2 linked regions of the Homo sapiens genome follow. The protein of the gene in region 2 purifies or fractionates together with the protein of the main gene of each other region. This does not show direct contact. Each region holds a gene or a part of one and is shown on either strand. Other genes may lie near its edges.

Region 1 (3,500 bases), on a different chromosome or scaffold from region 2:
AAAAACCATGATGCTACACTTACATTTCTATTACAGATCCCACAGATGCCTGCCACAAAAATAAAGCATTTTCTTCACCAGCAGTCAGCCAGCTTACAGTATTTTCTCTTCCACTGCTGGTTCATTCTTTGTGCTGCAAAAGAAAAAAAGAGTAATTAAGATCAAGAGAATCAGTTAATTATGTATAATCCTTTCAAAAAATTCAGTGGAAAACTTTATCTTAAAAGTGGGAAAAATTAAAGACAAGATGCATGCTTTTACCACTGCTATTCAACATGACTGTAAGTTCTAGCAGAGCAAATTAGGGAAAAGAGATAAAGGCATACAGACGGGTAAGGAGGAAGTAAAACTATGTCTATTCTCTCTAGATAGAAGATCTCATAGAATCCCCAAGAAAGCTAATAAACAAATTCAGCAAAGTTGCAGGTTACAAGTTTGACACACAAAAAAATCAGTTGTGTTCTGATACACCAGGAGACAACAATCCAAAAAAGAAATCAAGAAAACAGTTCATTCATAAAGTAACTAAGGGAATAAAATAGCCAGGAATCAACTTAACCCAGGAGGTGAAGGACTTGTACACAGAAAACTATAAAGCATTACTGAAAGAAATTAAAGAAGAGCTAAGTAAATAGACAAGTGATGTATGGATTGGAAGACTTAACATATTAAAATGACAATACTACCCAAAGTGATCTACAGATTCAACATAATTCCTATCACAATTCCAACAACCTTTTTTGCAGAAATGGAAAAGCAATCCTCAAATTCATATGGAATTGCAAAGGACCCTAAGTAACCCAAACAATCTTGAAAAATCCAATGTCAAAACTTACTACAAAGCTAAGGTAACAAGACAGTTTGGTGCTGGCATAGGACAGATAAATACACCAATGATATAGAATTGAGAGTCCAGAAATAAACTCATACATCAATAGCCAACTGATTTTCCAAAAGGGTGTCAAGTCTACTCAATGGGGGAAAACAGGCACCTCTAACTAATGTTGTTGGGACAACTGGATTTCCACATGCAAAATAATTAAGCTGGACCTCTACCGTATACTATATATAAAAGTTAACTCAGAATGAATCAATAACCTAAATATAAGAAATAAAACCATAAAACTCTTAATAGAAAACACAGGAGCAAATCTTCATGGCCTTAGATTTGCAATGGATTCCTAGATATGACATCAAAAGCATGAGAAACATAGGAAATAAATTGGGCTTTATATAAGTTTAAAATTTTTGTGCATCAAAAGACACTGTTAAGAAAATAAAAAGACAAACTGCAGAATGGGAGAGTATCTTGGCAAATCATGTATCTGATAAAGGTTTAATATCCAGAATATGTAAAGAACTGCAGCTCAACAACAAAGACAAACCAATTAAAAAGTGAGCAAAAAATGAGTAAAGAACTTAAAGAAGATACACAAATGGCCAATAAACACACAAAAAGATCCTTAACATTATTAGTAATTAGGGAAATGTAAATCAAAATCACAATGATACATCTATAAGGAGGCTACAACTTTTTTAAAGGGAAAAATAATAAGTGTTGGTGAGGATGTAGAAAAATAGGACCTTTGAAAACTGCTGGTAGGAAGGTAAAAGGGTGTAGCTGCTGTGAATAATAATTTGTTGCTTCCTCAAAAAGCTAACACAGCAATGCCACTCCCAGGGATATAGCAATAGAATTGAAGAGGTTCTCAGACACTTGTATGCCAATATTCACTGCGGAAATATTAGGCAAAAGGTGGACACAATTCAAGTATCTACCAACAGATGAATGGATAAACAAAATGTGGTCTATAAATACAACAGTACATTATTCAGTAATAAAAAGAAATATGTGCTACAATATAGATGAACCTTGAAAACATACTAATAAGCCACATACAGAAAAGTATGATTCCACTTACATGAAATATCAAGAATAGGCAAATTCATAGAAGCAGAAGGTATCAGAAGTTACCAGAGAGTGAAGGAAGGAAAGTGGAGAGTTATTGCCTAATGGGTACAGAGTTTCTGTTTGTAATGCTAAAAAAAAGTTGTGGAAAATCTATAATGGTGATAGTTGCATAACATTGTAAATGAAATTAACTACATGGAATTGTACTCTTAAAAACCTGTACCATCTCAGTCATTAATCTTCTTTCTTCTCATTTAGTATTTCCATCTCCACCTCACCATGTCCACTACAGGACGCACATCATATTACACAGAATAATCAAGAACACATGATAACTAAAGAAATGATAGATCTCACAGTAAACACAAGATAGAGGAGACTTCAATCTTCTTTTATTTCCATGTGGCTCTCATACTATGGGCATCTATCTCCCTACGGTATCTTAAGATTCTAGTGTTTAAAGAAACATATTCTTAATGCCATTATGTGGCCCCTAAATACAAGCTGACTTATCCTACCAAATGTTTAACAGAACAAACAATTTGTTTTAAAATCAGAGAACTTTCAAAAGTAACTGACTGTGATGGTTAATACCGAGTGTCAACTTGATTGGAGTGAAGGATACAAAGTATTGATCCTGGGTGTGTCTGTGAGGGTGTTGCCAAGAGATTAACATTTGAGTCAGTGGGCTGGGCAAGGCAGACTCACCCTTAATCTGGTGGGCACAATCTAATCAGCTGCCAGTGAATATAAAGCGGGCAGAAAAATGTGAAAAAGAAAGATGGGCCTAGCCTCCCAGCCTACATCTTTCTCCTGTACTGGATGCTTCCTGCCCTCGAACATCAGACTCCAAGTTCTTCAGTTTTGGGACTCGGACTAGCTCTCCTTGCTCCTTGCAGACAGCCTGTTGTGGGACTTTGTGATCGTGTAAGCTAATACTTAATAAACTCATATATATATTCTATTAGTTCTGTCCCCCTAGAGAACACTGCCTAATATACTGACTAAACAAGGTTTCTAAGTAACCTTTTTGTTTTACTCTGACTTTAGATGAAATGGACTCCACTATTTTGACTTTCCTCTCAACCCTTTCACCAACTTCAAGGAGCCTACAACTTCAATGGCATCAAAGAAGGCTATGTTCATTTCCTTGCTGCAGCCTACGCCAAACAGAAAACTGCACATTTTCATACACTCCCTATATATAGGACAGGAGGAGACAATTTACTGCTCCAACATCATTACTTTTTCTTTCAAGTCTCTATCACACTGACTTTAACATACCCCATAATCCCCTAAAACTGCTCTCTCACCACCTGTAAGGGATTAATGTCATCTTTTCACTACTGATCATCCTCTTCATCCTAACTCCTGACATGACTATCAGCCTATTTAAATAGCCTTGAAAATGAACCATCCAACACCTATTGCACAGGTTCTTAAACTTGTCCCAACTTCTATTCATCAGAATCACTGAAATTGCTTGTTAGAAATACATATTCTCAGCCCCTTTCCTTAGAAATTCTAGGCCAGTAGACATAGGTTTAAACCTAGGAATCTCACCCCAGGTGGTACTCATGCTTTAGTC
Region 2 (3,500 bases):
ATGAATACTGAATTACAATATGCATGGCCAGGCACTGCGGCTCTCACATGTAATCCCAACACTTTGGGAGGCCAAGGCAGGAGGGTTGCTTGAGGCCAGGAGTTTGAGACCAGCCTGGGCAACATAGCAAGACCCAACCTAAGCCTCCTTGTTTCTACAAAAAAAAAAAAAAAAAAAAAAAAGCAAATTACTTAGAACAGTGCTTAATCAATGCCAGCTCCTATAAGGATTCTTACGAGCCTTATGCAGGCACTTGCCTAAGTACCTGCATAATCCCAGGCTTGCATTCAAAGCAGTCCTTAGATGATCAATCTTGGTGGTGAACCAGGAGGGATGTATAATTCTAATGTTTTCTGCTTACCTGAGGGTTTATTCTTTTAAAATATCAAGCCTCAATGACGTGAACACATTTAAGAGATGTGCCTGTCAACGTAAATCCTAAAAAGACAAAGCAAGTGAAACCCCTAACACATCCCAGCCTAGGCGACAGAGTGAGACTCCTTCTCAAAAACAAAAAACAAAAAACAAAAAAAAACCCTAAAACAGGGCAGCACAGAGAGTAAATGCTCAATCAATGTTTGCTGGATTTGAATCTACAATTTGCTTCATTAGACTCATGTGTACTGAGTTCTTTGGAGAGCTGGAAAGAACTGTTTTTAAGTTGGAAATTCTTATTGTGGGGTTCCACCGAATGGTTGCCCCACTTTTGACCCTGAGTACTGGTCTCATGATCCGTGAGGCGGTTTTAGGTGGGCAGGAAACACGATGTAAATAAAATCCAGGTGTTGCGTGTTTTTACAGTATTCTCACCTGAAGAGTACGAGGATGCACGACTGCTTGGAGAACAAGGTACTTGCAGCCCCGCAAACCCCAGGCATCTCTGTGATCCCCTGTCTGAGTCAAAGCTGGTCTGCGGGCTGTGTCCCTGATCCTTCTGCCCAGAGGCCCGCTGGTACCAGCCACGCAAGTGCTCGGCAACTAAGGCCTTGTGGATGTTTTTGGTGATGTGCTCCGATTTTGCAGCAGCCTTCCTTGGCAGCCGGAGAGTTGCATATGGGTTATGGGGTACCCGGTCGACCTCATCTTCGTGAAAGGATCTGCTGTAGTCCCTCTGGCGCTCATATCCATAGTGGGCTGAGGACCGGTAGGAAGGGTTGACACTATACTGTCCCTCGGTGTCATTCTCATAGACATAACCACCACTGTAATAAAAGTCACACTCTGCATAGGGTGTGTACCCGGCAATGTAGTAACTGGAAGACGGTGGCTCCTGACTCTTTGAGTAAACACCATTCCTCAAACTATCCTTTTGTGCTAGGTTGGGCATGCTTCCTGAATTTGAAGTAGAAACATTCTGTTTCTTTGACCTCCTCCGACCCCTGGTGCGAGTGTCCAGGGTCTGGGTGGTGTAATAGGGGCCGGTAACTGGTGTCACACAGTAATACTCTGTGCTTGATTGGCTTGTATAAGAAGACCCGTCATCGAGGATTTCTGTGCTGCTGCTTCTTTGGGATTTGGAGAGGGAGAAAAATGGCTTATCGCTGTCCATCTCGGAGAGCAGGTGGGACTGGGACTCCAGGCTTCCACTCCGCTGGCGGCAGTGCTGAGATGAAGATTCGGGTCTGAAAGAGGAGAAAGGCAAACTTCTCAACACCAAGAAGAAAAGGAGGACCCAAATAAGAAAAAAGAATAGCATGCTGAATGACTGAATAGCTCGTGAATTACAATAGGACTTTGAGTTGCCAAAGCTGACTGCACAATAGAATCCATTGTTCTCCAAATCTGTTGGCTCACATGTAGGTTCATTTTGACCATGGTCAAAATGAGAAAAGAGCTGGCTTCTGTTAGTTGCGCAAGCCAAATCCTTCCTTGAGGGTAGGGAAAGACACAGACTGAGGATGCACAGTTTGCATCACAGCCTGGAAAAAAAAACAAAAACAAAAACAAAAAACCCAACGTGTCTTTGGAGGGTCCTGTCTTCCTAGAGGATATGAAGATATGGTACATTCGAGTGGAGGTCAGAGGTGGCTGGGCTGAGTCATGGCACTGCTATTTCCCAGCTGTATGAGCTCAGGCCAGATATTTAACCTCTCTGAATCTTGCTTCCTCCTTTGTAAGATGAGGATGAAAACAATATATAATATCTACCTCACAAAAGGCTTGCTGTAGGGACTAAATAATCCAGTGAATATAAAACATTTAGCACAGCACTCACAAACATTTCAAAATGTTGCTATTGTTACTAACTTCATCCTCACCATTGAATAATGAATGGTAATATGTGACTGGGGAAATTAAGGTACTAAAAATCTAATGTATATTTGAACAAATCAAATACATTTTCTTTGCCAACATATTTGAAACCATAAGTTAGCAGAAAATGTAAAACCATAAAACAAGGTCCTGCTACAGAAAGTCACTTGAAATGATTAAAAAACACAATAAAGCAAGACAGAACCTCAAAGCAAAAATCAAGACAGCTAAAGCAATGAGAAAGAAGCTCTCTTACTCCAAGTGGCTGCTGCTGTAGGCGTTTCGGGTAAGAACTGGCGTGGTGGGCATGCTTCGTCCTCCCTGGGGCCGCCTCTCCAGAGTTTTGTAAGGGCTGCTGTGTGTGGACAGCATTTCTCTGTGATGATAAAAAGAAGAATTCAGGAAATGATGAGTCTCTCAACATCTCTGGCAAACTTGTCATAAGCAGATACAAAACTTACTAGAAGCCCAAGGAAAGGGAAAATAGGGAGAAAGATAGGAAGAGTGTCTTTGTGGTTCACTAAACCACAAAGAAAACCCGCTAAAACAGCGGGAGCACATATGGTCTGACTTTCTGAGTCACAAATATGTAGGGAAAAAAAGGACTTTTAATAAAGAGTACACTGAATAAAAAGACTCAAAGCAACTAGAGCTGTTTATGTAGGCACCTGAACATTCAAAACAGTCCTTAGATGATCAAATCTTTGTGGTGAACAGGGATGGATGTATAATTCAGCAAACTCCTTTTTTGTAAACAGTCTAGAATACTAAATAGCTTTTGGCTTTGTGGGCCAGATGGTCTCTAGAGCGACTACTCAGCTCTGCCCTTTCAGTGCAAAAGCAGCCATGGATAATATGTAAGAGAATGGGTGTGGCTGTGTTCCAAGAAAATGACCTATGGATGCTAAATTTCATATCATTTTTACAGGTTGTAAAATATTATTGCTTTTGATCCCCCCACCACCAGCTACCTAAAAATATAAAAACCATTCTTAGCTCACGGTCTGCGCAAAAACAGGCAGCAGGATGGATTTGGCCACTGGACTGTTGTTTGCTGGTCCCTGGACTAAGAACAACAGCTTTAAGTCACTATGTCTACTTCCCAGCATGGTGACAACACAATTAGAAGTTAATTTTTTTTTTTTTTTTTTTTTTTTTTGAGACTGAGTCTTGCTCTGTCGCCCAGGCTGGAGTGCAGTGGTGTGATTTTGGCTCACTGCAAGCCCCGCCTCCTGGGTTCACGCCAT

What was found.
Region 1: the proteins of FRMD4B (region 2) and RNF146 purify together in Homo sapiens (affinity purification with western blotting; one study listed by BioGRID). This does not show direct contact.

What each region holds. Positions count from the first base shown.
Region 1 is NC_000006.12:127,276,864-127,280,363, reverse strand, and holds part of RNF146 (E3 ubiquitin-protein ligase RNF146), read right to left. Parts: intron 134-3,500; 5' UTR 26-133; coding exon 24-25; intron 1-23. UniProt on the Homo sapiens protein: E3 ubiquitin-protein ligase that specifically binds poly-ADP-ribosylated (PARsylated) proteins and mediates their ubiquitination and subsequent degradation. May regulate many important biological processes, such as cell survival and DNA damage response.
Region 2 is NC_000003.12:69,180,089-69,183,588, forward strand, and holds part of FRMD4B (FERM domain-containing protein 4B), read right to left. Parts: intron 2,630-3,500; coding exon 2,510-2,629; intron 1,623-2,509; coding exon 811-1,622; intron 1-810. UniProt on the Homo sapiens protein: Member of GRP1 signaling complexes that are acutely recruited to plasma membrane ruffles in response to insulin receptor signaling.